Linked DNA regions of Homo sapiens: regions 1, 2, 3, 4 and 6 are each reported to be linked to region 5. The links are microRNA targets in miRTarBase. Many come from high-throughput screens and were not tested one by one. Region 5 holds a microRNA gene; each other region holds the end of a gene's coding sequence. Distances are between the middles of the regions.
Evidence for each region. The annotated mature microRNA hsa-miR-3658 reads UUUAAGAAAACACCAUGGAGAU and lies in region 5 at 1,877-1,898, opposite strand. An mRNA with a match to its seed (bases 2 to 7 or 8) in the 3' UTR can be bound and repressed. Matches are read on the target gene's strand: a 7mer-m8 pairs with bases 2 to 8, a 7mer-A1 pairs with bases 2 to 7 and ends in A, and an 8mer does both.

Region 1 (5,372 bases), 70 Mb from region 5:
GCGGAGGAATGGTGAATAAGCTCTGGTGGAACCACACAGCACACAAGGCACTGTCGTGTGTCACCGAGGAGAGTGAAGCAGTCTAGAGCTGCGCTGTCCAGTGTGGCTGCAATAACCACATGTGGCTATTTAAATTCATTAAAATAAAATAAATTGAGTTCTTCAGTCATACTCGCCGCTTTCCAGGTGCTCAGTACCACATGTGGCTGCCATACTGGGCAGTGTATGGCTAGAGGACATGGCATGGAATTGGCATGAAAAGCTATACCATCATGTCATAAAGAAATACAAATGTAGTACGTCAATATATTATAAAACCTATACATCCTTTTTTTTTTGAGACGGAGTCTCATTCTGTCACCCAGGCTAGAGTGCAGTGGCATGATCTCGGCTCACTGCAAACTCTGCCTTCCGGGTTCAAGCAACTCTCCCGGCCTCAGCTTCCCAAGTAGCTGGGATAACAGGTGCCCGCCACCATGCCTGGCTAATTTTTGTATTTTTAGTAGAGACGGGGTTTCTCCATGTTGGCCAGGCTGGTCTCAAACTCCTGACCTCAGATGATCCGCCCGCCTCGGCCTCCCAAAGTGTTGGGATTACAGGCGTGAGCCACTGCGCCTGGCTTAAAACCTATACATCCTTATATGAACACAGAAAAAAAAAGGCCTAGAGGTATACCTCTCAAATTTTTAACACTGGTCATAGGCAGGTAAAAAGAAATAATCAGCTATTTCCATATTTTCTGAATGTTAAGACAGTCATGTTACTATATTAAAAATGGTAATGCTATTTATTACATAGAGATTGCTACTTTCTTCTATAGAACCGGTATGAGTAGGCAGGTTTTTTTTTTTTTTTTGAGACAGGTTCTCACTTTGTTACCCAGGCTGGATGGAGTACAGTGGCGCGATCATGGCTCACTGTAGCCTTGACCTCCTGGGCTCAAGTGATCCTCCCAAGTAGCTGGGACTAGAGGCGTACATCGCTATGCTTGGCTAATTTTTTATTTTTTGTAGAGATGGGGTATCCTCATGTTGCCCAGGCTGGTCTCAAATTCCTGGGCTCTGATCCCTCTGCCTCCCAAAGTGCTGGGGTTACAGGTGTGAGCAGGCCAGGCAGATTTCTTATTAGAACTGTTTTATGACCAAACTTTTTGTTTCTGGCATGTGTTAGGAGTATGTCACTCCCCACTGGTGTGCAGCAGGTAACCCCTTCTCTCACCAGCCTTCAAACAATGAAAGCCAGTCCGTCTCAATCTTTTGAAAGGACTAGACTATCACATATTCACACATGAAAGAGCAAATTGTTAATTAAAATTATAAATTCTATTAACTGTATTCAATACATACAAAAAGGCCAGTTTTTATTCTAAAATAAAGAACATTTATTATCACAAGTTGGATAAAAACACACAGCTTTTACAAAAATGATTTTTGATAGAAAAATATGTTTGAATACACTGTGATATTTGTAGGAACACCACACTATTGCTGTATCTCCAGCTAAAGCTTCAAGGAAACTCTATTTCTTATAATCAAAATATCCACTATTTACCACAACCCGTCTTTGGAAAGAAGTTCATAGTGTATTCTGAACAAACCAAAGCATTTACTCGGAAGTTACATTCCCATGCCTGGCAGTCACTTGTGTATGTTTAATACAGTTACACATGATGTAATTACAGAATGGCGGCGCTGGAAGGGACCTTGTAGATCATTTAGTTGGCACCCTAATTTTACAGAGGGGGAACTAAGGCCAGAGTTGAGAGATGTCCTCAGGATACCTGAGTCCCATTCCAGTGTTCGTTCAGTAATTCATAAGGAAGTCATCATAAAGGTTTAAAAAGAAAACGTTAATGACTCGCTCCCTTTATTCTTCTGTGCTGAGAGTATCATTCTGGTTTATTCAGATTAAGAAAGAAATACACTACTGAAATGGTATGAAACTCACTGTCAAAGGGCACTTAGGTCCGTTGGCTCCGTTTCCCACAGTTCCCCAAATGAACAGGTGGTACAAGACTCAGGCTTTCCCCTAATTACTTACTTGGGTAAAGTGACTTGGGTAAAATGAAAGATACAGCCAGGCGCTGGGCTCATGCTTGTAATCCCAGCACTTTGGGGGGCCAGGGCGGGCGGATCACGAGGTCAGGAGTTCAAGACCAGCCTGGCCAACATGGTGAAACCCCGTCTCTACTAAAAATACAAAAGTTAGCTGGGTGTGGTGATGGGCACCAGCTACTCAGGAGGCTGAGGCAGGAGAATTGTTTGAACCCGGGAAGCGGAGGTTGCAGTGAGCCGAGATTACACCATTGCACTCCAGCCTGGGCGACAGAGCAAGACTTACTTAAGTAAGTAAGTAAGTCAGTCTCAAAAAAAAAAAAAAAAAAAAGACAGATACAGCTATCATTGCAATGATACTGTGGTCTCATCACATGAGCTAGTTTTACAGGTAACTGTCATTTGAGAGAACGAATGGACTTTTCTTGTCTTTTGATAGGCTCCATGACAATTCAAAAGGTGAAGGGATTGCTGTCACGTCTTCTCAAAGTTCCTGTGTCAGACCTTCTGTTGTCCTATGAAAGTCCCAAAGTAAGTTGCCCAGCAAAATACAAAGTCAAAGTCAAGCTTAGTCCTCGTATTATGACATTAAACTGTCTCTAGATAGCAACAGTTTGATTCTAAATGGAGACCATGGGTCTGTTTGTTTGATTTTAAGGGTAAGCTACTGCCTGGGGACGGGGTGGGGGAAGAGTATGTGTAGCATGCTTTATCGGATCTGTCTTAATCACATCCTTCCCCACCTTCGTTCTAATTTTAGAAGCCGGGCAGAGAAATCGAGCTGGAAAATGACCTAAAGTCATTACAGTTTTATTCTGTGGAAAATGGAGATTGTCTATTAGTGCGATGGTGACAACCAACTAATAAAATTTAAAGACCACACTGCTTATCGTGTCTGGGGTTCACCGGAAATAAATGATTCACTGGAACAATTCTACTGTCAAAACAAAGGGGGTTTACAACTTGTCCTAAGTATAACAAGGGATGTATTTTTTGTTGGGAAGTGACCATTTCTAGGCTTATACATAATAGCAATAATAAAGGCTTTGAACCTACTAATGATTTTCTGATCTTATTTCATATTTATTTTTACAGCTCATCACTGCATTTCATGATAAGATTTAAATATTAAATAGAAAGAAACTAGCTAGCCTAATAAAATCTGAACACAGTTAATATCTGTCATAAGACTAGTTTTAATGGAATTCTCTATTGAAACTACTATTTTAAAGGGTTACTAGAAATGATTTGGTTGGTCATTTTGGGAAATGTCCCTTAAACTTGGGGAGACATCCTCTACTATGTATAACAATATGCTATTATCTGTCTTCTCAGTTGCACTATTTCTAAGAGTACTTAAATTAATCACATGCTTTTCCCTACAATTATACCTAAGCTGAGTATATCTTCTTCTGTGATAACCAGCTTTGATTGAAATGTACTCATATTAGGTAAACATTAGGCAATGATAGGAGGAAAGCAAAACTAATTCTTTCAAAATGTCAACAAAATTTAGAAATATCCTTCCCGATGGCACTAAAACCCTGAGAGGTATTTGCTTTTATTCATACTCACACAACTTTAGCATTTAAAAACTATGAGTACTAAACTGTGACCTTCAGGATTTATGTTAGATGGCAGAAAGAAAATTTGGGTATTAGTCTACCATATAAATGAACTTCTTTAAAACCAAGGTTCAGAACTGAGAATCATATTGGTTCCTCTTCAAGTTAGTTCAAGTTGCCCACTTCAGAGATCCACAAAATCTGACATTATTTCCAGAAACCCCAAACTTTGGTATAAGTGACCACTGCTCAAATATGTGATCACATGATCACACAGCATTCCTGTGAGTTCCTTTTTGTCTGATAATTATCCTAATTAGCTCTACAGAGCTATCCTGCAATCCAGGTTGAAATTCAAACTCTCAGTTACTACTACAGATTTCTGAACTAGGCCAAGTTTTAACCAAAAACTATAGGTAATGGTGAATTACTAATTAGCCACAATGCATCAGGATTTAGAAATATTTTTTCTTTTATAAAATAACTTGGTATTTTTCTGATAATCTTCCAATAGATAAATAAAAACTTTTCTTATGCTACAGTACAAGTTGATTTTTAAGGAAATTTGTGCAAACATTAAGAAACACCGCATTGGTTCTGGGTGAAAGTGCCAGTCTGGAACTCTCTTGAAAGACCATACAGTCTACTGCTAAACCCTGGGACTCCTCAGACTTGCACTCAGATTATCGTTTGCCTGCCCTGATTTTAGACTCTGCTAATTCAAGTCCCTGTTATCTTGCTTGACATCGACAAGGATCACCGCACCGTTCCTTCAGTTTCCACAGTTCCGTCAGTTCCCACGGAGAATACTGAGGAGAAGACAGCATTCCTGTCTCACAGGTCTTCTCACACAGCCACAGACTGTCCTGTTGAGAAACAACCAAAGCCGATCTGAGAGTGGTGAAACTGTTTTAAGAGCATCAGAAAGTATGCACGTAGACAGCTTTTATGTATTCTAATGATGCTGAAATTATTTCAAGGATAACTCCGTGTGTGGAACAACTGGTGAGGTTTGGGGGTGGCACCTCCTGATTTGGGAAAGCACCAGGTCCCACAGTCCTGTGGCTGTGGAATACAGAAACAAGGCGGTGTGTGGATGAAGAGTTAGTCAACAAATGCCATTCCGTAATGAACGATTTTAGAAACCACAAGTGAGTTTCATGTTTGCTAGTAAAGGTGTGTCTATGGCAGTATTAGTAACAGCTATTATTCTGATGGAATGCTTACAATATTGCAGGGACTGTACCAAGTGCTTTGTAAATATCTCACTTAAATCTCACAGTAATGCTGTGAGGTAGGAACTATTTCCCTCTTAACAATTGAGGAACAAACGAAGAGTTAAAAAACTTGTTCCAGGTCACAGGGCTGGTAAATGAAGAGGAGGGATTAAAGACTCCCAAGCTCAAGTTCTTAACCACTAGACTATTTCCTAGCTACGTGAATTGGTTTCTATTTCCAGCAATGTAGCAGAACACAGAGAGAAACTCATTCAATGTTTTGACAACACAAAAATGTTGGATAAAATTAAAAACCTTTATAAAGCATGGCTCAACTCCGTGATCAAAGAAGAAACAGGGTAGGAGAAAGCACTGAGTCAGCCTGTGCCTTGAAGGCAGCTGCTGATCCTTGGGTTTGGAAGGCCAAGCCCAGGGTCAGGAGACTAATGGGAGACTGACACAGAGCTAGGATCTCTGAGGGGCCACAGCCTCAGGGGTGATAAAACAAAACACACTCAGCTTGTCTGTCTCAGTCT
Region 2 (5,372 bases), not on the chromosome of region 5:
TGCCGCGCAGGGGAGGGTGGGAGGTGGAGTCTTCCTTGGGTCGTTTCTCCCTTGTGCACGCACCGTTACATACTGTGCAATGCGTTGGTGTCTTGGGGGACAACCCAGCAAGTAGAGTTGGTGTATACGTCATGGCTTCCTCTGGGGTCCTGGGCTGGCTGGTCCGCTGGGCACCCCCCCCCCAACCACCACCAGGCCTTGGCAGGACCCTGGGACTGGGACTGGAGGTGACCCTCGCTGGCCCCTGCCCACCTTCTGTTCCTGCTGAGTGGCTCTTTGGGTGGCACCATGCCCAGGCTGTAAACAGCTGGTGAAGACTGCTGGCCTCAGGCGGCTGTGGCTCTGCGACTTCTCTGGATGCGGTATTGGTGGCTCCACCCACCAGCAGGAAAAAGTCAGGTTGTCCCTCCAGAGGAGCCAGGCCAGGCGCTGCAGGGCACTGTGGTGGTCATCCTGGGTAGCCATGTGACCGTGGCATGCTCCTTGGCATCTCTGATACCGGGTTTTGAAACGACTGAGAGCTAAGTGCAGGAGTTGGTTGGCATTAGAGGCGAAGCCCAAACTCCTGTAGTGGGGACTTTGACTCAGAGCAGCCCTGGTAGCCCCCCTCATGCTGCGTCACAGCCCTCACCTCCTCTCCCCGTCTCCTTGCAGGAAGTTCTACTACATCACCCTGCTACGAGACCCCGTGTCCCGCTACCTGAGCGAGTGGCGGCATGTGCAGAGGGGTGCCACGTGGAAGACGTCGTTGCATATGTGTGATGGGCGCACGCCCACGCCTGAGGAGCTGCCGCCCTGCTACGAGGGCACGGACTGGTCGGGCTGCACGCTACAGGAGTTCATGGACTGCCCGTACAACCTGGCCAACAACCGCCAGGTGCGCATGCTGGCCGACCTGAGCCTGGTGGGCTGCTACAACCTGTCCTTCATCCCCGAGGGCAAGCGGGCCCAGCTGCTGCTCGAGAGCGCCAAGAAGAACCTGCGGGGCATGGCCTTCTTCGGCCTGACCGAGTTCCAGCGCAAGACGCAGTACCTGTTCGAGCGGACGTTCAACCTCAAGTTCATCCGGCCCTTCATGCAGTACAATAGCACGCGGGCGGGCGGCGTGGAGGTGGATGAAGACACCATCCGGCGCATCGAGGAGCTCAACGACCTGGACATGCAGCTGTACGACTACGCCAAGGACCTCTTCCAGCAGCGCTACCAGTACAAGCGGCAGCTGGAGCGCAGGGAGCAGCGCCTGAGGAGCCGCGAGGAGCGTCTGCTGCACCGGGCCAAGGAGGCACTGCCGCGGGAGGATGCCGACGAGCCGGGCCGCGTGCCCACCGAGGACTACATGAGCCACATCATTGAGAAGTGGTAGTGGCGGTGGTGGCCACGGGGAGGCCTCTTGGGGGGTGTGGGGGATAAAACAGGACAGACGACAGGTCCACCCAAGACTGTCAAGGGATGAGCATCCCAAACCTGCTCCACAGAGGTAGCTGCGTCCTGAAAAAAAACAGAGCAGGGATGTAGTGGGGCTGGGCAGGGATGGGGGCTTGAGAAATCAACAGGTGCAGCCCAGTGGGTCAGAGGAAAGCGTGCTCGAAGGATGCCATGGTCAGGGCAGGGCCTCCAGAGCAGGTGTTGTGCCTGGAGCTGCTCTCCTGGCCTCCTTGGATTTATCGCAAAAACTGAAGGTTTGCGCAAGAGACGAGGACAGCGGAAAGTGGACCTGCCAGGCCGGGAGTGTGTCCCTCACCAACTATGCACACAGCACTCGCTCTTAGCTCCTCTGTCCGGGCTACTAGGAGTGAGACCAGCTTCTGGCAACTGCCCCAGCTCCAGGCCATCCCATAGCCCCTCCTCTTCTGGCTGCCCCCAATGCCCCGAGGCCTGGGGAGCCCCCAGCTCACCCATCTGTAGCTCCCTCAAAGTCAGGGCCCACCCCATCTGAGGCAGAGAAGACTCGAGTCCAGCCCCCAGGAAGCCTGCTCCCCTCTCTGGCCCATGGTCCTGCTTCATGCTTTGGGTCAGGAGGCCAAAGCTGATGTTCAGGCCCCACCCACTCCCTACAGTCCTCAGACCAAGGAGGGGTTTGGGTAGTAGGCCCGAGCTGCATTGCCGGCCTTCCTCGGGCCAACTGGCAGCCCAGGAGTGGGGAGGCTTTGGCCAGGGATGCTGCCACTTGTGCGTGAGTCCGCGGCTGGCCCTTGGAGGTGACCATCCAGGCAGGCCTGGCTCAGACTGGAAGGGCTGGGGACCGAGGGCTCCCCTGCCTCTGTTCTCCTTTCTGACCCACTGGGATTTGCTAGCAGGCTGCCCCAGCCCCATCACCGAAACACATACTCAAGAGCTCAAATACCACTGCTCCCACCAGCGTACGGATTAAGTTCATCAGGCTTCCATCGGCTGGAGCATGGGACCATAGCCCCTGCCCAGGAGCCGTACCCTCGGACCACAGTGGCTCTGTATGGCCAGGAACTGGGACTCGAGCTTTCAGATTCTCAACTAGCCTTGGCAAAACAGCTGTAGGTGGCCTCCCTGACAACAGACACTCAGCCCTCCCCACCCTGGCTCTCCTTGCATTTCCCCATGCTCCCCACCCCCTGGCAAAAGGCTGGCCATGCTCTGTTCCCAGCAGCCGCGCAGGTTTCCCCACTGGCTGCAATGGCCCTACCAAAAGCCATGTTGCATATCCGTTGTAAGCACGTGCCCTGTGCCCTGTCCCCATTCCTTATGCCCTAGGAGGCCAAGCTGGTGTCTCTAGGAGGGCCCACACAGGCACCCTGGATCCCCCAGAGAGTAGATTGGTGTGCTCAGGCCGCAGGCTGACTCAGAGGTAGGGCAGTGGGCTCTGCAGGCCACCTGGCTGGGGTTGGTGGGGGTCCTCTCTCCTGCCCCAGCTTCCACTCAGCCACCACAGTTGCCACACCATGGGGTGGAGACGTGGGTCACCACGGGCTTGGGAGCAAGCGCCTTCTGCAGCACAGGAAGCCGAAGCTGGGGTCAGGTGAGGTCGCTACCCCTGGAGGTCTGGCATAAGGGCCCCACCCTCAGGTCTCCTACACTGGCCCCATTTTACTTTGGGGTCCAAGGACAGGATGGTCAACAGGGCAGGGTGGACAGCGTGCCAGCGCCGCGCAGGGCCACCTCCCTGGGTGGATGCATCACACTAAGGAAGTGAGTGCCAAGGGGATTTAGTGGTGTGGTTCTTTCAAAGGGAGGTCAGGGTCAATGGGAATCTGCTCGGACACTCAACATGGGGGTGGGTGCACTCCTTGGAGGAGGAGGAACACGTTCAGGGGATTGTGAGGTCTTGCACAAGCCACGTGGGGCACCTTGGCTTCCCGGCAGGAGGTGGACACCCAGCCAGAGGCCTGGCTCAAGGTGACCTCACCTTCACCATGGGCTTCCTGGGTGCGCGGGCCTGAGCGCAGGTTGTTTTGTACATATTGGAATATGTGTTAACTTATGCCCCGCATCCCAACTCACACGGAAGCACGGGTCTTGTCTCAGTCTCTTCGCTGCATTTGGAAAGCAGTCTCCTCTCGGGCCAGCGCCGGGCTGAGGTGTCCAGAGGCGGCGGCAGCTGGCAGTGCCCTCAGCCCCCAAGTGTCCAGCCTGGCACTTCCCATTCAGGCCACCTGCTTTGGGTCAACAGTTCCTTTGCCAGCAGCATCTCCTAAATTGTAAGGACTCTGTCCACCGGGGCCCTCCCAGGGCTGTGAGGACGGAAACAGGCAGGGAGTGGAGCTAACAGCTTAGTCACCAGGACCCCCAGACCTGCAAACGTCCCCTCCTGGAAGGGGAAGCCAGGAACAGCAGAACTGCCCACAAAACAAGGCTGTGAACTTTTCGGGAACTGGAACTGTTTAACTTGAACCCAGGATTGTTTAAAGCTTTATTTATTTATAGCTTCTTCTTAAAAAAAAGTGTTGAAGAAATTTTTTGGTTATTCATACAAAAAAATGAGTTGATGATGGAAAAGCAAGTCATAATCATCTAATTGTTTTTGTCTAGGTCGAGAATGAATGTTAGCTGATGAAATAAACCCTGACAAGGAGTGGCGGGTGTGCTGTGGTCTCTGCGGGCATAGCTGCCCCTCCCAGTGGGGTCTCACACCACGTCCCAAGGGCGGGGTGCTTTGCACAGGTGCAGGAGGCTCAGTGAGGAAAGTCCCATTAAGTAAGGCATTCTGAAAGAAAAAATGGGACTTTGTCATCACCATAAAGAGTAACCGTTTATTAATCATTAGTGATAGTATTTGGGAAGATGACACCAGTTGAGAGGGAGGCAGGTGCCACTGAGTTACATTCTCATTAACCTCTTCCCTCCCTGTCTTTGGAAATTTTGAAAGATTTCAAATGACAAAGAGAGTGGAGGAATAGTTCATGGACACCCACATGCTCTTGGCCTAAATTTTTCACCTTCTCTTATCCTGTGCCCACACTTTCTCATACACGCACACACGCGCGCTTTTCTGAAACATCTGAAAGTAGGTTGTGATCATCAGAATACTGCACTCCTAAATCCATCAGCTCGTGTCTCCTAAGGACGTTCTGCCACAAAACTCAACCCTGTTATCCCAGCCCCCCCCCCAGATTTTATAACAATACAGTATTTTCCAATATCCAGATCTTCTGGTTGTCCTAGAGATGTCTTCAGAGCATTTTGTAGCCCCAGGACCACACGGTGCCCCATGTGCCTCTCCTGTCTCCTTGAATGGAGGAGAGGGTCCCAGCTACCCCTTCTTTTTTCCGTCTTTCTTAGGATTGACATATTTGACTAGTAGAGACCAGTTGTCTTAAAAGGTCTGCTGATGTTGGCCGGGCGTGGTGGCTCACACCTGTAATCCCAGCACTTGGGGAGGCTGAGGCGGGCGGATCACGAGGTCAGGAGATCGAGACCATCCTGGCTAACGCGGTGAAACCCCGTCTCTACTAAAAATACAAAAAATTAGCCGGGCTTGGTGGCGGGCACCTGTAGCCTCAGCTACTCAGGAGGCTGAGGCAGGAGAATGGCATGAACCCGGGAGGCAGAGCTTGCAGTGAGCTGAGATTGCGCCACTGCACTCCAGCCTGGGCAACAGAGCAAGATTCCTAAAAAAAAAAAAAAGAAAAAAAAGAAAAAAAACTACAGATGTCAGTTTCCTAGTGGTCAGATTCGGTGAAATTGGGTAGGAAGGCCCTCGGGTGAGGCACCTTCCATCAGCCCAGGTGTCCTGTGGCTCTGTTCCCCAGATGAGGGAAGTCCAGCCTCCCCACTCAGCCCCTGGGGAAACCCAGCCATAGTGGTCACCTGCCAGCTCATACCTGCCACCATCCCAGTGACAAAGGTCACCAGGGTGTTTCTGGGAGGGTCACGGCTTCTACCTGCCACCATCCCAGTGA
Region 3 (5,372 bases), not on the chromosome of region 5:
AAACTATGAATGTAATCAATGTTGGAAAACCTTTGGGATAGATAACTCCAGTATGTTACAACTGAATATTCATACTGGTGTGAAACCTTGTAAATATATGGAATATGGGAATACATGTAGTTTTTATAAAGACTTTAATGTATACCAGAAAATTCATAATGAGAAGTTCTATAAATGTAAGGAATACAGAAGGACCTTTGAAAGAGTTGGAAAAGTTACTCCACTTCAAAGAGTTCATGATGGTGAGAAACACTTTGAATGCTCATTCTGTGGGAAATCCTTTAGAGTGCATGCACAACTTACTCGACATCAGAAAATCCATACTGATGAGAAAACTTACAAATGTATGGAATGTGGCAAGGACTTCAGATTTCATTCACAGCTTACCGAACATCAGAGAATTCATACTGGTGAGAAACCCTACAAATGTATGCACTGTGAGAAGGTTTTTAGAATTAGTTCACAGCTCATTGAACATCAGAGAATTCACACTGGTGAGAAACCTTATGCATGTAAGGAATGTGGGAAGGCTTTTGGAGTATGTAGAGAACTTGCTCGTCATCAGAGAATTCATACTGGTAAGAAACCCTATGAATGCAAAGCATGTGGAAAGGTCTTTAGAAATAGTTCATCCCTGACTAGACATCAGAGGATTCATACTGGTGAAAAACCCTATAAATGTAAAGAATGTGAGAAAGCATTTGGAGTAGGTAGTGAACTTACTCGACATGAAAGAATTCACAGTGGTCAAAAACCTTATGAATGTAAGGAGTGTGGAAAGTTCTTTAGACTTACGTCAGCCCTTATTCAACATCAAAGAATTCATAGTGGTGAGAAACCTTATGAATGTAAGGTATGTGGGAAGGCCTTTAGACATAGTTCAGCCCTTACAGAACATCAGAGAATTCATACTGGAGAAAAACCCTATGAATGCAAGGCATGTGGGAAGGCCTTTAGACATAGTTCATCCTTTACCAAACATCAGCGCATTCATACTGATGATAAACCCTATGAATGTAAGGAGTGTGGGAATTCCTTTAGTGTTGTTGGGCATCTTACTTGCCAACCGAAAATTTACACTGGTGAGAAATCATTTGACTGAAATAAATGTATAAAGTGGTTTTTTATTTCTGATTTTCACAGGAAAATACTGTGGATGGATTTAATAGGTAATCAAGGCAATTCAGTATCTCCCTCTCTTAAAGTCTGTTTTTAGACTTCATGGTCATTCTGTATGTAGACGTAGAATTGCTTAGTCATAGCTGATATATACTTATAGCTTTGTTAGATGTTGCCAAATATTTCTCCTTTTTATGTTAAAAAGTTTTTTTCATGAGTTTCTCATCCTGGCATGTTTTGTTTACAATAGCTTTTGATGTTTGTATTATTGCTCTTTTGACTATTCAGTTTTTTAATTGTAATATTACTTCAATATCTTTTCTGCATTGTAATTCTTTGCTTGTGATATCTATACTTACTTATTTTCCTCCACAGAGTTAGCACTCCTAGTCAGATACAATGTATTTTTACAGTCTTACAGCTCATCATTTTGTGTAATGTTGTTTTGTTTTGTTTTAAATGATAGAAGTGTGATCTCCTTTCCATTTTCATCCAATTGTTGACTTCTCTTTAAATTTCTACTTTATTTTGATACAACATATTCCCCCCAAAAAAACACATACATAGGAACTGGTTATATTCCACCATAACACACACACACACACACACACACTATATACATATAGTGTATATACACATATAGTGTATATAGTGTATGTGTGATGTATACTATACATATCACATATACTATATGTGTGTATATAGTGTGTGATGTATATGTGTGTGATGTATACTATATATGCCCACACATGCACTACATAACACACTATATATATATATATATATACACACACACACACACAATATATGTATATATAGTATATACACTATATACTGGGCACTATATATATATAGTGTGTATGTGTGTTATATTGGAATATAACCAGTTCCTTTAAGCAGTCTTTTTACCTGCAGGCTATACCAACCAGGATCCAAATGAAGAGAACTCTTTTAAATATTTGATAAAACTACTCACCCAGTAAGTCTCTTAAAATTTATCATTCTCTTAAAGTATCACTCTAAAATTTGTCAAACACCTTTAAAAGGGGAGAAAAAATGACCACTGAACTTACATTAAGAGAATTTACAACTATATATTAACATGGCTTCAATTGTTTTTTTAATCTATTATCATTATTTTTCTTTTTATTCCCTCTCAGAGTTGACTTACTAGGTTTGGGCATTTCAACAATCAGCAGACCTTCTTTGGTTTAACTAATCTCATTTAACTCCAAAATCATCTCTCTCTTAGGACTGCTGACTTGGTTATGCAGTCAATGAGATCACGAGCCACTGGTTATTGGATTTTTTTTCTTTTTTTTTAGACAGAGTTTTGCTCTTGTTGCCTAGGCTGGAGTGCAGTGGCGCAGTCTTGGCTCACCTCAACCTCTGCCTCCCAGGTTCAGGCTATTCTCCTGCTCAGCCTCCTGATTAGCTGGGATTACAGGCATGCGCCACCATGACCGGCTAATTTTATATTTTTAGTAGAGACGGGATATCTCCGTGTTGGTCAGTCTGGTCTCAAACTCCCGACCTCAGGTGATCCACCCGCCTCAGCCTCCCAAAGTGCTGGGATTACAGGCATGAGCCACCGCACCCAGCCTGGTTATTGGATTTATTTATTTATTTTGAGATAGAGCCTTGCTCTGTCACCAGGCCGGAGTGCAGTGGTGTCATCTCAGATCACTGCAACCTCCACCTCCCAGGTTCAAGCGATTCCCCTGCCTCAGCCTGCCAAGTAGCTGGGATTACAGGCATGCGCCACCATGCCCAGCTAATTGTATTTTAGTAGATATGGAGTTTCACCACGTTGGCCAAGACAGTCTCGATTTCCTGACCTTGTGATCCCCCTGCCTCGGCCTCCCAAAGTGCTGGGATTACAGGCATGAGCCACCACGCCTGTCCGGTTATTTGATTTTTATAAGAAAATTTTACTATTATTTTCAGATAAATTTATGTCACTGTCATTCATTACATTTTAATTTTTGAAACTGATGTCTTTCCCAGAATTTATGTACTCTATAACGGTGTGAATGATTACCAGTATTAAGCCATTTTCTCATCTGATATATTGAGCTATGTTTTATGTAAGTATTGCTTATTCAAGTAGTTTTAAAAGATATGTAATTGGTTGTTGTTTCATGTCCTACACAGTAAGAACAAGAGTATGTTAACCTTTTTGTCAGGATATTTGCTATTTCATATCTTTGAAATAGAGTAGTAGCTCTATTTCTAACTAAATTCTATTTATGTAACAACACAGCTAATTTACTCTTGGATCTCATTCTCCCTTTTTATCCTGAGTTACCATCAGTGCTAATGTTCCTCTTTTGGGTATAGTTCTCCAGGAGAACTTGTCCTATATTTCTTTGTGTGTGTTTTTTTCCTTCCAGCTTAAACAAATTAAAACTAAATATCTAAACCTTGTATACAGACATTAAAATTAGTGAGAGAAACAAAATATCCTTGTGTCTTGGCTTTTACTTTTTGAAGTCATTAACAAATAATAAATTAATGAATAAAATGTGTCCTTATTATGTTTTCCTTGTTTGTAGTTACAGCTATATTTTTATCATATTAACATTTTTCACTTAACTTCGTAATGAACTTATGGCATTTCACACTTACTCGAAACCATAATATAATTATTATTGGTGGTATTACTGTTTGGTTTTTACTATTTTTACTCAAAAACATAAAACTTCACCATTCTTTCCATTTTCATTTGCCCCTTTATTCTTTCTGACTTTTCTCTAAGCCTGCATAGGAGCTTTATTCTCATATTCAATAGGATAGGATATTGCAGTCTCATCCTGTTTTCTGCTGTCCTGCACCATTAAATTTTATATGTCCTTGAAGGAATTCAATTTAATGGCAACTAATATATGTATGTTAGGGACAGGTAAAGAGTCTGTGACTGAGATTTCTGGAGTTATATAACCCCTGCGCCACCCCCCACCCCAACTCCAACTTGCCAGAATTCACCCCTTAACCTGCAATGTGATTGTATTTGGACATAGGGCAATGAGGACATAAGAATGTGATTCTAATTTGATACAAATGGTGATCTTATGAGAAGAGGAAGGAGAGACGTCTCTTCCTATGCTCACACACAAAGGAAAGTCCACATGAGGACACAAGGAGAAGCCAAGAGAGCCCTTACCAGGAATTAAACCTGCTAATCCCTATTTTAATTAGAACAGTGAGAAAATAAATATCTGTATTTAAGCCTCACAGTCTATGGCATTTTCTTACAACACCCTAAGCAAACTAAGACAGTTGTTGGTACTGAGAAGTGGGGTGCTGCTATAACAAAAAACTAAAAATGTGCAAGTCCAAGCTTTGGAACTGGGTGGTGGGCAAATAGGCTAGAAGAATGCTGAGGGTAGATGCTAGAAATATGGATGTAAAAATGATTCTGGGGAGGACAAAAAAAAAAAATAGAACCACTGGAGAGAAAGCTTCCATTTTAAAGAATCCTGTCATGAACGGTATTCATGTTAAAGAAACAATCATGAACAAAATGTTGGTAGAAATATGGACATTTAAGGCCATAATGTTTTAGTCTCAGAAATGAGAAACAGGTTATTGTAGCAAGGAACTTGGCTGAATCATGTTCTAGTGTTTTGTGGAAGGTAGCGCTTCCAACCAATGAAAACTGAATAGTAGCGGAGATTTCTAATTATTGAACTTGTGGCTTGGGTTCCCTTTATTGCGCATATAAAACAGGAAAGGAGAGAGATGAATTGAAGGAGGAATTCTTAAGCAATAAGAAACTAAAATGTGAAGATTTGGGAAATTCTTAACCATACTGAGAAAAATGAGGAAATGTGTATTTTGCTGTTTTGGGGTAGAGTGTTGTGTACATGTTAGGTGTTGTTAGTTGATAATCTTCCAGTTTTCTATTTCCTTCTTGATCTTCTGTGTAGATGTTCCATCCATTATTGAATGTGAAGTTTTGAAGACTCCAACTGTTGTAGAACTTTTTTTTTTTGCCTGCAACTTTTTGTAGTGTTTGCTTCACTTCTTTTGGGGCTGTTTGGTGTGTTTGTGTTTATAACTATTATATCTTTTGATGCATTGACCGTTTTATCAATATATAATGTGTCTTTTTTGTCCCTTGTAAAAATTTTTGACTTAAAGTCTATTTTGTTTGATACTAGCATAGCCACCCTACCTCTCTTTTGCTTAACTATTTGCATGGAATCTTTGTCCACTCCTCTCACTTTCAAACTATTTACAGTTTGGGATTT
Region 4 (4,000 bases), 60 Mb from region 5:
GAAGTACCTAGTTCATTGTCTGGCCTATTAGGAGACCTTTAATTAATAGTAGCTGATTTATTATTTATGTTTCAGATATGTTTATTCATCTTCTCACAAATATCCAGCTTTTAGAACATAGTGAGAGCTGGATCATAAACCTCCCTCCCAGGTGCCCACTAAGCTGTGCCCCAGGCCTTCTGACTTCAGCCTCCCAGATGACCTCTGACCCTGCTCTCCTTGCCCACACAGAGCTCAGGGCGACTGTGACCCTGAAGCACCAATGACCGAGGGCACCCGCTGCTGCCGCCAGGAGATGTACATTGACCTGCAGGGGATGAAGTGGGCCAAGAACTGGGTGCTGGAGCCCCCGGGCTTCCTGGCTTACGAGTGTGTGGGCACCTGCCAGCAGCCCCCGGAGGCCCTGGCCTTCAATTGGCCATTTCTGGGGCCGCGACAGTGTATCGCCTCGGAGACTGCCTCGCTGCCCATGATCGTCAGCATCAAGGAGGGAGGCAGGACCAGGCCCCAGGTGGTCAGCCTGCCCAACATGAGGGTGCAGAAGTGCAGCTGTGCCTCGGATGGGGCGCTCGTGCCAAGGAGGCTCCAGCCATAGGCGCCTGGTGTATCCATTGAGCCCTCTAACTGAACGTGTGCATAGAGGTGGTCTTAATGTAGGTCTTAACTTTATACTTAGCAAGTTACTCCATCCCAATTTAGTGCTCCTGTGTGACCTTCGCCCTGTGTCCTTCCATTTCCTGTCTTTCCCGTCCATCACCCATCCTAAGCACTTACGTGAGTAAATAATGCAGCTCAGATGCTGAGCTCTAGTAGGAAATGCTGGCATGCTGATTACAAGATACAGCTGAGCAATGCACACATTTTCAGCTGGGAGTTTCTGTTCTCTGGCAAATTCTTCACTGAGTCTGGAACAATAATACCCTATGATTAGAACTGGGGAAACAGAACTGAATTGCTGTGTTATATGAGGAATTAAAACCTTCAAATCTCTATTTCCCCCAAATACTGACCCATTCTGGACTTTTGTAAACATACCTAGGCCCCTGTTCCCCTGAGAGGGTGCTAAGAGGAAGGATGAAGGGCTTCAGGCTGGGGGCAGTGGACAGGGAATTGGGATACCTGGATTCTGGTTCTGACAGGGCCACAAGCTAGGATCTCTAACAAACGCAGAAGGCTTTGGCTCGTCATTTCCTCTTAAAAAGGAGGAGCTGGGCTTCAGCTCTAAGAACTTCATTGCCCTGGGGATCAGACAGCCCCTACCTACCCCTGCCCACTCCTCTGGAGACTGAGCCTTGCCCGTGCATATTTAGGTCATTTCCCACACTGTCTTAGAGAACTTGTCACCAGAAACCACATGTATTTGCATGTTTTTTGTTAATTTAGCTAAAGCAATTGAATGTAGATACTCAGAAGAAATAAAAAATGATGTTTCACTCTGTGTCTGTTTTTAATTTCCAGGAGCAATAATGGGGAATGAGAGCAACACAATGATCTGAAGAAAGGACCCCCAACCTCTAGGGCGCAAGACTATAATAGTTAAATTTATATAGATGAGGCTTTCATTTATGATATTTCTATTTTCTCACACAACTCTCATTCCAAAAATATTAAACAATCACTCACGGATGTCTCCTCTTTAGTTTATGTGTTGCCAAAGCAAGCACTGCAGCCTCATTTTTTTTTTTTTGAGACAGAGTGTGGCTCTGTCACCCAGGCTGGAATGCAGTGGCACGATCATGGCTCACCGCAAACTCCGCCTCCCTCCCAGGTTTAAGCAATTCTCACGCCTCAGCCTCCCGAATTACAGGCATGTGCCACCATGCCCAGCTAATTTTTTTTTTTTTTTGAGACGGAGTCTCACTCTGTTGCCCAGGCTGTAGTGCAGTGGCATGATCTCGGTTCACTGCAACCTCCTCCTCCTGGGTTCAAGCAATTCTCCTGCCTCAGGCTCCCTAGTAGCTGGGACTATAGGCGACCACCACCATGGCCAGCTAATTTTTTGGGTTTTGTTGTTGTTGTTGTTGAGATGAGTCTCGCACTGTCACCTGGGCGGAAGTGCAGTGGCGTGATCTCAGCTCACTGCAACCTCTGCCTCCCAGGTTCAAGCGATTCTCCTGCCTCAGCCTCCCAAGTAGCTGGGATTACAGGCGCCCACCACCACGCCCGGCTAATTTTTTGTATTTTTAGTAGAGATGGGGTTTCCCCATGTTGGCCAGGCTGGTCTCGAACTCCTGATCTCGTGATTCACCTGCCTCGGCCTCCCAAAGTGCTGGGATTACAGGTGTGAGCCACCGTGCCCGGCCCTTGGTATTTTTTTAGTAGAGACTGGGTTTCACCATGTTGGCCCGGCTGGTTTCGAACTCCTGATTTCAGGTGATCCGACCGCCTTGGCCTCCCAAAATGCTGGGATTACAGGCATAAGCCACTGTGCCCAGCCTAATTTTTGCATCTTTTAGTAGAGACGGGGTTTTGCTATTTGGCCAGGCTGGTCTTGAACTCCTGACCTCAAGTGATCCGCCCGCCTCAGTTTCCCAAAGTGCTGGGATTACAGGCGTGAGCCACGGTGCCCGGCCTACCTCCTCTTTAGAAAGCACTGTAACCCCTACAATAGTGGTGATGGGCAATGGGGGTTGACAATAGTGTGGTAAGCGAGCTAACATTTCTTATCATTCACTATGAACCAGGGAACTGGACTAGGCATTGTCACATGTCACTTAATTCTTGCAGCTATCCCATAAGGTGGGTATTATTAATCCTATTTTTTAGATGAAGAAACAGCCTGAGGTAATGCGAGCATGTTGAATCTCTATCCCACAGAATGGGTTATAAACTTCTTCCTATGCCAGTCCCCAATAAGCTGCTCTGCTGATGACACAGGCATCAGGTTAAAATGTCATTTGGGAGCTGTCTTATGCAATTCCCCTCCATTTAGCTTTCCCATTGAGCTGGGTTTCCTTATGCTTGTCTATGGAGAAAGTTATACAGTCATATACCGCAAAATGATAGTTCGGTCAATGACAGACCACATACACAATGGTGGTCCCATAAGATTACAATGGAGCTGAAAAATCCCTATGGTCTAGTGACATCATAGTCATTATAATGTCCTAGCACAACCCATTACTCATGTGTTTGTGGTGATGCTGATATAAACACACTTACTGTGCTGTCAGTTGTATAAAAACATAGCACATGCTAGGCCGGGCATGGTGGCTCACGCCTGTAATCCTAGCACTGTGGGAGGCTGAGGAGGGTGGATCACCTGGAGTCAGGAGTTCGAGGCCAGCCTGACCAATATAGTAAAACCCCTTCTCTACTAAAAAAACAGAAACTAGTCAGGCGTGGTGGCGGGTGCCTGTAGTCCCAGTTACTCAGGAGGATGAGACAGGAGAAGAATCACTTGAACCCTGGAGACGGAGGTTGCAGTGAGCTGATATCACACCACTGCACTCCAGTCTGGGTAACAGAGTGAGACTCCATCTCAAAAAATAAATAAAATAAAGCACAGCACATGTAATTATATATAGTATATAATACTTGATAAGTGACTGTTACTGTTATGTATTTACTATACTTTTTATTATTTTAGAGTACTCGTTCTACTTATTAAAAAAAAAAAGTTAACTGTAAAACAGGCTCAGGCGGTTCCTTCAGGAGGAATCCAGAAGAAGGCATTGTTATCATAAGAGATGACAGCTCCGTATATGTTATTGCCCCTGAAGACCTTCTACTGGGACAAGATGTGGAGGTGGAAGACAGTGATATTGCTGATCCTGACCCTGTGTAGGCCTAGGCTACTGTGTGTGTTTGTGTTTTATTTTTTAACAAAAAACTTAAAAATTAGAAAAAAAATAAACTTTTTAATAGAAAAAGTTTATAGAATAAGGATAAAAAGAGGCCAGGCGCGGTGGCTCATGCCTGTAATCCTAGCACTTTGGGAGGCCGAGGTGGCAAATTGGCTGAACTCAGGAGTTTGAGACCAGCCAGGGCAACATGGTGA
Region 5 (5,372 bases):
AGTGCCATCAAGGCCAGGGGCCCTGTGTCCTCAGGATACTAACCCAGGCCTGCATTCCCTGCTTCATCTCAGAACTGATCAAGGCATGACTACAAGGATAATGATTGATCCTGAACTGATCTTGGTGAGCACCGGCTTTCAAAGGAGGCATCTTGGGAGCCTTCCCTTGCTCCAAGTAGGCGGCTGCTGTGACTGGGAGCTCCCTTCAGAGCCTGCACGGTCTCCTGAAAGTCTCCGGGTGGCAAGCTCTGCTGGGGACCAGGTTTGACTTTTTAAAATAGCAAAACAGATTTAGAGTCAAACTGAGCCCAGAAACGGGGAATCAGACTGGATGGTGCTGAGTCTGGGGGAAAATCTGGTGTGACCAGGTAATAATGGAGACCAATTTACCTGAATGGCTCGAACAGGCTCTGAGAGCAATGGGAAGAAAAGGTTCTCCAAAATGTTTCTGGCAATGGCAGCCACAGTGGGATAGCTAAGGGCACAGTCCACCAAGCACTAGGGTGGTCAACAATGAAATGAACATCTCTGGCTCTTCTGCAGTCAGAAACTGAGGCTCGGGACTCTATAATCAGAACTCCTTCAGGCTCACTTGGGCTCCCCTCCACCCAGAATGTCAGGAATCTGTACTTCCAGAGAAAACACTACCACCAAGCAGCAGCTCTCAGGAAAGCTAGAAATCTCCACCCCAAATATTTCAACCTCAGGCTCCAACTTAGGTACCTATGATTTAAATACTCTCCTTTTAAATACTTTGTAAAAACTGCTTTTCCGAGCCCCTTTTATGCTCTGCAGTTGCCATATCCACTAGGTGGTATTGCAAATAAGTAAAGCATCCTGGCCATGACGCTGCTAGTGAGAATCCCTGACCAAAGTTACTCTCCTCACCTCACTGCAAACCTCCAGGAAGCGGAAACTACTACCCCTCCACAGACAGAGCTCCCCTGCCACTCCATGAGGCGCTGCTGCCGGCATCAGTTACCGAAGCCCTCACCCACACCCAGCCTGCAATGGTCCACTCTATATTCCACAATACAGGAAAAAGCCCAAGGAGTCAGATCAGTTACGCCCCTGGGATGCAGAAAGAACCAGTGATTCTTCAGATATGACAGCAGGCAAAGTTCTGCCCTCTCCTTCCCATCTTCTATCAGGAAGCGATCCCATAAAATCTCTTCCAGGGAAGGAAAGAGGCAGCTCTGGCTTCTTGGAGAGACAGAGAAGCAGGAGGGTGAGGAAGGAGTCACCAAGCTATCCAAGCAGCCAGAGGCGAGAAGGTGGGAGCAGGGCAGGAAGAAAATGCAGAAGACTTGTTCTCCTCAGTGGGCCTCTTCCCTGAGTTTGATTTTTGAGTTGAGATTTTACCTAATTTCAACTCAAAAAAAAAAAAGAAAAGAAAAAAAAAAAAGACAAGAGTATCTCTCATTGACATATCACTAAGCTCCAGCTCCAAGAGTGGCATGTGACAGAGGAGGCAATCAAGGTTTTCCAACCCCATTCCCATCAAGTTCCACGGGGCACTCAAAAGCAACTGGACCTTAGCCACCCTCCCTGTCTCTCACAGATGCCCGAGCCTCCCCACCCTGGGACACAACAGGCAATTTCCCCTTGGTGAAATTCCAGCTCCAGTCCTAAAACACTCAAGTACAGACCCTCCTGCAAAATACTTATGGCAAACAGCTTTACAGTATTTGTACATTTACACAAAAATAGATCCTTTTTTATATATATATGTATTTATAACTGGTTACACGTTGGATTCATAATTAGGCATCACCAGTAGTAGTTGGCACAGTTTTGTTATTTAAGCTCAGGGTCAAGTTCTGTTTCATTTTGTCGTTCCAAAGTACAAAAAGAAAAAAAAAATCAAAGGCATTTCATCTCCATGGTGTTTTCTTAAATACAGTAATGTCATAGGAAACAGTATGTACAGATGAGCAGTGCCTCCTGACCCCTCCTCTGTCTCTTGGAGATAGGGGCTGGGGTCCGATGGAGACGGGTCAATGCGGCCTGCTGCTGGACTCCGATGCCTGCCTCTTGCGTGAAGGGGTGTAGCCGTTGAGACAGCCATTGGTCTGCCGTTTGGAGGGCCCTCCATTCAGGATGTCCTGGATGTGCTGCACGATGAGGTTGATGGCCACTGTGGGGCAGAGACCAGCAGAGCGTTACGGGTGCAGGCATGGGTGCAGGGGTGAGTGTGGGAGTCTGTCTGGGGGAAGGGCATGCAGGAACCACAGTAGAAAGACTTCCAGGGAAGTGGCTCTGCCACTTGCAGGCAAGTCATCCAACTTCCCAGTGGCTCTGCCTGAGCTAATATGATCCTCCTCCTTCACAGGAGGGCTCTAAGGAGTAAGATAGACAATGCCTACCACAGAGTAAGCCCTTAATGAATGGGCTTCTTATCAGGAGATGATCAGTCACCACTGGATGAAGCACTCGGGCCAAAGTCTGCAGACGTGGTAACCAGCCATGGTTCTGACACGTCAATTAGCTATGAGACCTTTCCACCAGGGAACCTTCCAGTTTTCCATCCTAAGACAGAGCATCCCTATGGAAGGCCCTCTTTCCCTCCAAAAAATATAATGCAGAGAGCTATCTTTTATTAGCATTAGAAATAAATTATATACCTCAACCAAGAGGTCAATTTAACATCACCAAAAATGGAATACACATCAAATGCTTTCTGATGTGATACACAAAGAGGACCACGCCACATCTCTCCTGGGATAATTCCTTCAGACTGTATAAGCTCATGAAACCAATCATAAGAAAATAAAAGACAAACCCAAATTGAGGACCATTCTACCAAACAATGGGCCTGTACGCCTCAAAAATGTCTTAAAAAACAAAAGATAGGGAACATCTCCAGGTTAAAAGAGGTCATATCAATGGTAAATGTCTTGAATTTAATGACTGCATTCTGCTGATGAATAAGAATGCCTTTGTTCTTAAAAAATACAGGGTTAAATATTTATTGCTATAACTTACTCCCAAACAGCTCAAGAAATAATCTTTTTAAATGGAGGGAAAATTAAATAAATTCTAAAGAGAATGAAGAAACCAGGTCCTATTTTACAGATCAACTCTGCCACACTACGCCTAGTCCAGAGACATTCATACTTCCTAGACAGGCCAAAAAAATAAATAAAACAATGGGGCCAGGTGCTATGGCTCACGCCTGTAATCCTAACACTTTGGGAGGCTGAGATGGAAGGGTCGCTTGAGGTAGGAGTTTTAGACCAGCTTAGGCAACATAATGAAACCATCTCTACAAAAACACTTTTTTAAAATTAGTGGACCGTGGTGGTGCAAGCCTGTAGTCCCAGCTACCGGGAGGCTGGGCCCAGGAATTGGAGGCTGCAAATGAGCTGTGACTGTGCTACTGCACTTCCATCTTGGTGACAGAGCAAGACCTCGTCTCTAAAGTAAAATAAAATAAAATGAAAAATAAGTACAATAATGGTAGCAACCAGCTCCCTTTAGAAAGGGCTACCGTGATGGCAGGTCATTCTAAATTAGATCAAGGAGGGAATCTGCTTTTGCTAAAAGGTGGCCTCAGAAGCAAAGTACCCAAGTGTCATCATTGGGAAGTGATAGTAAAAGGTAATCTACAGCCCTCTATTCTGCCAGAGAAGCACAAGTGCATGTCTGTCCCCGTAACACATGGGTGCCTACACCCAGGGACCTGTTCCTGAGGCCAGACGTGTAGGTGGAAAGGTTCTGCTGGCTCACAATCACAGACAAGCAGGGCAGCCATGTCTGCAGAGCCCTGTAGGGTCACCACATCCTGCCCCAAATTATGACTGACAAAGGGCAGACATTATACTCCAGGATGACACTCTGCAGGGACTCACCCAGATTATCTGCACCTCTAGGGATGATCACATCAGCATACTTCTTTGTCTGTGGAGAAAGACAGTTAATATGCATTAATACAGTTAAGAGACAACTGGCCCGAGACCCTCTCCAAGGGAATATGGGGAAAGGGCAGCATTCATACTAGCGAGCCCAGAAGAGCACCTTTTAAGGCTTCAAATATAATATTGTTTACAACTTCACAGTGAATGCATCTATTAATAGAAATTTGGGGAAACCTAAGGAAGTGCCTTGTTTAGCTGAAATGTGAATGAAAGAAGATAAGCAGGGAATGAGGAAAATGAGAAAGAAGGATTGAAGACTTTCATGCATCAGTGAGGGAAAATGGTCCAGACTGAGTGGTTAATCCAAAACCAGTTCATAATTCGATTGATAACTATCTACCATGGATTTTTATCCACTTTATCTACATTACAAGAATTTAGCTTTTATTCAAATTCTCTCTCACTCTCTCTTTTTTTTTTAAGACAGCGTCTCACTCTGTCACCCAGGCTGGAGTGCAGCGGCATCATCACAGCTCACTGCAGCCTTGACTTCCTGAGTTGGGGAGATCATCCCACCTCAGCCTCCTGAGTAGCTGGGACTACAGGCACCCGCCACCACACCCAGCTAATTTTTGTTATTTTTTATAGAGAGGGGGTATCGCCATGTTGCCCAGGCTGGTCTCAAACTCCTGGGCTCAAGCGATCCACCCACCTGGGCCTCCCAAAGTCCCAGGATTACAGGCGTGAGCCACTGCACCCAACCAAGTTCTCATTTCTAACGCTGAACACTGTTTCAGCTTATGACCTATGCAGAGAACATGGTCTTTGAAGCCAAACACTTAATTGCCTCTATTCCACTAGGACAAATATGAACTAGAAAAACCCAAACTTTCCAGGGGACTGGTTCACCTTGGACTTTTACACATAGTCTGAAACATGACACTGTTCACTCCTAGCACAGGGTAAAACCAGAAAAAGTATTCTTCACTGATGACCAGTTCATAGGTTCTATTATTACCCAATTTTTAAAGAAAGAAAGTCAGGCCACAAAGAGGCATATTTCTTTTTTCTTTTTCTTTTTTGTTGGTCCAAATTTACTGAGATTTTGTAGACCATTCTACAAGTAACTGCATCCTGGCATACAAACTAAGTCTAGCATAAGAACACATAAACCACACCTCAAGCATGTGGGCATCTTACTCTGTGCAGCCTCTGCCCTAGGATTGCTGAAAGGCAACGGTGTCAGCCCCAAACCCAACTTGAACTGAGCAGACATTTATCAGGTCCAAGTTCCTGGCTTACAGGGGAATGAGCTGATCTTCCCTGAGCAAAGAGTGGCTGGACAGTGGAAGCAAGCAGAAATAACCCAGAAAACGTCTGCAGAATTTTTAGCTTTGTTACAACTAAGTTAAACGTAGAAAACTGACAGTTAAATATGACTGATATCCAATAATAAATTCATTTTGTGTTCTTATTAAGTCAAAAATAACAGGAGAGGTCCTCAGATAGATAACT
Region 6 (5,259 bases), not on the chromosome of region 5:
CAAGGACTAAGCTCATTGCTAGAATGGCAACAACAAACCAAAACAAAAATCCAATGAAGGATGGCAGATGCAATAAAAAGTTTCTGAGGAAGCAAAAACAAGAATTAGTTAAGGCTTCATAAAGAATTCTATAAGAAGATTTAAATGTCAAGAATTCACTGAAAAGCCTCAAAGCCTAACGGGTTATTGCGGTGTCAGGCTAGCTGAGGTCTAGTGACATGTTCCCAGAAATAAAGCTAAAGGGGGCATGTGAGAACGGGCGTGGAAAATTGAAACAATTACGTTTCAAATACTTTTTGCCTTTCATGATGCTGTTTTTTCCTTAGGAGCCACGGGTGACTCTGAACTTCAATTATTCATCAAAATCACAAAACTAAAACAATAACATAAGAAAAAAGACCAACAGCATCTTTAAGAAACTTGAACGTCCTCTCGGCTCTAGCGTGTAAACGGTAGGTCTCTAACCTCAACGCACAGCGGGCACTGGAAGCGGTGATTGTCCAAAGGCCTGATTGTCCACGATCTCAAAAGGAGATCTGGTATTTTTGTGATTTGGTTCTCATTAAATTCCTATACCAAGTAAAATGCCAGTTCCCATGGCCTAAATTTTATTTTATATATATATATGCTTTTTTTTTTTTTCTGAGAGCAACCTTACTCAGACTTCACATTTATCTTAGTACAGCATTAAAAAAGATTTAATAGATGGGTTCAAAAGCCAGAGGCATGTAGCTCTTGAACCTACCCTAGTAACCATACTTCACAAGATACATTAAAAGTCCACTAACACCTAACCTAACGCACACAAAACCCACGCCTGTTTACCTTCTGCAAGTCGCATCGGTCCGCAATCCCACAGATTAAAGCAAGTTTTCCCTTTATACGCAAAGTTTTAGCCAGGTAAGCTATTGTATGATTAAAAGCAAACTTTATAAACTAAATAATCTTAGGAATAGTGGCCACTTACTTTTATATTTCAGGGATATGAGAGAATAGTTCATGAATTTTCAGAAAAATGAATGTGTGGGATCAACAGCTCTGGTCTAACATTTGCGGGGGGGGAAGGGTCAGGGATGAGAGTTTTTCTCCCCATCCAAATTAGGTCTGTTGAGTCTTACTTGCAGTACCGGCGCAGTACATGAACATGTCAACATACATATGTGGCAGAAACACACATCAAGGAACATGACGGCATTCACTTTTGTTTCTGAAGACAGACAGAGACTGGGCTTCAAAAGACACCGTCTTCTATTATGAGTCAAACTTCTTACAAATGAGAACAGAGGCCTATGCTTTTCTCTTTAAAAAAGGAGCCTCGAATGCGATGCACAGCCGACCTGCAGATTAGTGTTAACTCTGGGAGCTCGGGAGCGTGCACCACCACCAGTGTCACCGAGCGCACCCGCACAGCAGCTAACCAGTCAGGCAGCAGAACGAGTGGCGGCAGTTTGCCGGGGCGTGCAGACACACGACATGTTTCCCATCTTGGAGACTATCTACTGTTCGGCTTTTCTAAAATGTCAGATTATTCCTGAGTGTATATCCACAGGGTAAAGGAGGAAAAGACCGTAAGAGAAACTATAGTTTTGGGAGAAATCAGCGTTGTTGACACCCAATAGAAAACCTATTTACTTCAAAGTGCATGTAATTCATTTACCCGGTAGCTCATAAACGCTCCCTAGCCCTGCATAGTTTTCGAGTGAGTGTGAGTGATTCATAGTTTTTTATATATATACATACATAGAAAAGAGGATCCCAAATATCCTGCAGAGGAAGGAATGCTTAGAAAGCCTCTTTTCTTCTAAGTGCTACGGCTGTGTGTTTATGTGTTTGTAAAAATACAAAGTAAATGCTCAAATAATGTTGAAGTGATTTAAAAACTCAAATACTCATATATTTACATTGGAGAGTAAGAAAAAAAACAGTCCTTAGCTCACACATTGCCCTTCCAAGGGAGAGGATCCTGAAAGACCCCATGTGCTCAGTGGTTTAGTAAATGCCAAACCAGCGTCCCAGTGGAGTTCAAGTAGGACATGTAGTGTTTAACTGAAAACAATTTTTTTCCTTTTTTCTGTTGGTGAGAAAGCATTATGCATTACACAACACCAAAATTTAGACATATTTTGAAAATCGTTTAAAAGAAAACGTATCTTTACAAACACCAAATAACATCCATGAGACTGAAGCCCTTTTGTTTTTTTCCCATAGAGAGCAAGACAATTAAAGGCAGCAAGCAGTCAGTTCCGCCATCACAGCTGGAGAGTTGACGCTCAGAACCAGAAATTCTGTCAGTGTGACCTTTAAGTTACTTCTCTATTTCCACTGCCTTTTTTTTTTTTTTTGAGACAGGGTCTCACTGTTGCCCAGGTGGGAGCACAGTGGTGCAATCTTGGCTCACTGCAGTCTCAACCTCCCAGGCTCAAGCGATCCTGCCACCTCAGCCCCCCAAGTAGCTGGGACTACAGGCACGCACCACCACGCCTGGCTAGATTTTTTTTTTTTTGTATTTTTTATAGAAATGGAGTTTCGCCATGTTGCCCAGGCTGGTCTTGAACTCCTGAGCTTCAGTGATCTGCCCGCCTCGGCCTTCCGAAGTGCCGATCACAGGTGTGAGTCACTGCGCCCGGTCTCCACTGCTTTCTAATTCCAAGGGATGCGATCTGTTTAGAGCCTCATCTGGTGACTCTAATCCTTATGACCAGAATGTGCAGGGATTCTGACTGCATCCACACTGTGGAAATGTAACAGCTTTAGCCTGGGCACAGAAGGCTTTTCTCTTTCCTGTTCTTTCCTGAACCAGCAAACTTCAGGACCCTGACTGGACTCCCGCTGGAGGAATGAAGCCCAGCTCCTAGGACTTATTAAAAAAAAAATGACATTAGATTTATGGAGGCTGAGCGGGAAGATCTCTGAACTAAAACAATTACTGAAAAGAGAGGAGCATTCTGATGTGCTGTTCTTTGGAATTTCTATAATTAAAAAATAAACACAGAACTATTTCGTAAGAAAATACATCTTAGTGTGCAATCCAATGCACATGGATTGGTAGATGAAAGGTAAAATGCAAAAAAGTATGAAAATACAGTCCTTTAAATGTGGCAATAAAGTTTAACATACTGATATAAAATCAATACAGAGAAAATAAATGTACAAGTGCAAAAAAATTCCATCATTTGTAAAGAGAAATAAAAAGTGCCAGCCTGCTTGTTCTTAAAAATGCCTCCCGACATAATTGTTCAAAGACAAATTAGACAGATGCAACATTAAAAAAAAAAAACAAAACCTTCTTAGCATGCCATGTCTAATAAACACATATATACACAAAAACTAGAACAAAATCATGTGAAACCGAGTTATCAGCTGGCATTGATGAACTGGTCTGTAAGTTGTTGGGTTACATCATAAAATGGGATGTTTCACATCTCAGGCACAGACGACTTGGAGGTTGCTCTCAGAGGGCAGACTTTTTGTAGAGGAAGTCCGGCTTGCTTGGTGACCTCCTTCCTCTGCTTATTGAATCTTCCCTTTCCAAATCTGTATTTCTCTGAGCTCCATGGCCCAGGGACTCACTGTCTGCCAGTCTTCTACCGGATCTCTCTTCGGGAGCTTCAGAGCTACATGCAGAAAGTGAAGGTCTGTTAGGAGTCAGCCCAAAAGTCAAGTCAGTTTCTACTGCAGTTCGTCCCCTGACATGGGCTGGACCGGTACTAGCATTTTCTGGGGCTGCCAAAGGAAAGTCTGACCGCTGGGGAGGTTGCTCAACGACATCCAGGTGTATCGGCTCATTCTTTTGTCTGTGTAGATGCCCGTCAGGGGAAAGTGGATATTCTCTCCTAGCTTCTTCCTGTTTTTTAGGAGACGTCTGACCAGGTAGGTAGGCTGACTTTAAGCCACTTGGTGATGCCTTATTGTGGCTGTACAGATCGGGACCAAAATATCCACCTTGCGAAGGGGAAGGGGTGCGTCTGCTGAGAGCAGGAGTAGAAGGTCTGCAAGCAGCATTTGAGAAGTCATAGAAATCCGGATATTCCTGTGGATTTTCTCTGGTGTCTGTTTTTTGCTCTAGTGTGTGTTTTTTCCGAGAAGTGTGTGTATGTCTCTGTGGAATACACGACAGATGCTGGGGAGGCCCTGGTCCTGCTTCAGAAACTGACTGGCTTAATTCTGTGTCTACAGCAAGCTCTGGAAGCCTCCTGTCCTTGAGTGACAGTGTGGACACACCCACCGCGATGTCTGGCATCAGATCATTCAGCACAGGTTGTGTTCGCTGCAGACAGAGACAAAAATGGTGGGAGGGTTAAAAAAAGGACCCATCCTCTGTAGAAATGATGTTCACTGATTTTGTTTCCCAATTATAAAATTAACACATTCTGTTTTTGTTTTTTTTTTTGAGACAGAGTCTCGCTCTGTCGCCCGGGCTGGAGTGCAGTGGTGCGATCTCAGCTTACTGTAACCTCTGCCTCCCGGGTTCAAGTGATTCTCCTGCCTCAGCCTCCTGACTAGCTGGGATTACAGGTGCCCGCCACCACGCCCAGCTAATTTTTTGTATTTTTAGTGGAGACGGGGTTTCAATGTGTTAGCCAGGATGGTCTCGATCTCCTGACCTCGTGATCCGCTCACCTCGGCCTCCTAAAGTGCTGGGATTACAGGCGTGAGCCACCGCTCCTGGCTGAATTTGTAAGAATTATAAAAATACAGAAAGCTATAAAGGCAAAAAAATCACTCCAACCTTTTGAACAGAGATACCACTGTTAGCATTTTGAGGTCTTTCTTTTTATGCTTTTCTCCTTTGCATATATACTGATGAAATTTAGTACCTATATAATCTGTCACTAAATCTTTGAGATCACCATTTTAAATTATTATGTGACGTTCTACTGCATCAATGAACCATTACTTAATCATTCTGCTACTATTGGACATCTAGGTTGTTTACCATTTTTCATTATTATAGTCAAGACTGCAATGAACAGACAAATAAATTACCTTTAAAGGGAGTTTTATTTAAAATATAAAGTAGTAGAACTTTTGTAATTGTAGAACTGAGGGCCTGGCCCAACAGAATGGGAATCTGGTTTATCAAACATGACCAACCTTCGCCATTCTGGGGTGGGGGAAGCAGGGAGGGGAGGTAGAGAGGTCTAAGAAGGCGAGAAAGGCTTTCTGTGCTAACAGTGCCCCTGCAAACATGGTGAACCTTCCTAAAACCCATCGGACTTTCTGTCACAGTGTGGCACACACCAATCCCACAAAGTGACA

Region 1: the mRNA of B3GALNT2 is a reported target of hsa-miR-3658. Seed matches in the 3' UTR shown: 7mer-m8 at 4,196-4,202 and 7mer-m8 at 1,908-1,914.
Region 2: the mRNA of HS6ST1 is a reported target of hsa-miR-3658. Seed matches in the 3' UTR shown: 8mer at 3,902-3,909.
Region 3: the mRNA of ZNF529 is a reported target of hsa-miR-3658. Seed matches in the 3' UTR shown: 7mer-A1 at 1,198-1,204, 7mer-A1 at 2,106-2,112 and 7mer-A1 at 2,124-2,130.
Region 4: the mRNA of LEFTY2 is a reported target of hsa-miR-3658. Seed matches in the 3' UTR shown: 7mer-A1 at 1,193-1,199.
Region 6: miRTarBase lists BTBD7 as a target of hsa-miR-3658. Seed matches in the 3' UTR shown: 8mer at 411-418.

Annotation. Positions count from the first base shown.
Region 1 is chr1:235,445,856-235,451,227 of GRCh38, forward strand. It overlaps B3GALNT2 (beta-1,3-N-acetylgalactosaminyltransferase 2), which reads right to left. Exons shown (of 12, transcript NM_152490.5): 12 at 1,335-4,485. The coding sequence ends at 4,351. It overlaps TBCE (tubulin folding cofactor E), which reads left to right. Exons shown (of 17, transcript NM_003193.5): 16 at 2,494-2,585; 17 at 2,815-5,372. The coding sequence ends at 2,907. Among named protein-coding and RNA genes, the nearest start is that of B3GALNT2, 56 kb to the right of the region's middle.
Region 2 is chr2:128,264,153-128,269,524 of GRCh38, reverse strand. It overlaps HS6ST1 (heparan sulfate 6-O-sulfotransferase 1), which reads left to right. Exons shown (of 2, transcript NM_004807.3): 2 at 655-4,045. The coding sequence ends at 1,363. Among named protein-coding and RNA genes, the nearest start is that of HS6ST1, 52 kb to the left of the region's middle.
Region 3 is chr19:36,542,596-36,547,967 of GRCh38, reverse strand. It overlaps ZNF529 (zinc finger protein 529), which reads left to right. Exons shown (of 5, transcript NM_020951.5): 5 at 1-4,355. The coding sequence ends at 1,102. Among named protein-coding and RNA genes, the nearest start is that of ZNF260, 17 kb to the right of the region's middle.
Region 4 is chr1:225,934,036-225,938,035 of GRCh38, reverse strand. LEFTY2 (left-right determination factor 2) reads left to right here. Exons shown (of 4, transcript NM_003240.5): 4 at 232-1,433. The coding sequence ends at 595. Among named protein-coding and RNA genes, the nearest start is that of LEFTY2, 5.2 kb to the left of the region's middle.
Region 5 is chr1:165,904,449-165,909,820 of GRCh38, reverse strand. It overlaps MIR3658 (microRNA 3658), which reads right to left and starts at 1,900; the gene lies at 1,845-1,900. It overlaps UCK2 (uridine-cytidine kinase 2), which reads right to left. Exons shown (of 7, transcript NM_012474.5): 6 at 3,852-3,900; 7 at 1-2,137. The coding sequence ends at 1,998.
Region 6 is chr14:93,238,822-93,244,080 of GRCh38, forward strand. BTBD7 (BTB domain containing 7) reads right to left here. Exons shown (of 11, transcript NM_001002860.4): 11 at 1-4,267. The coding sequence ends at 3,452. It also overlaps the pseudogene RPL36AP4. Among named protein-coding and RNA genes, the nearest start is that of UBR7, 34 kb to the left of the region's middle.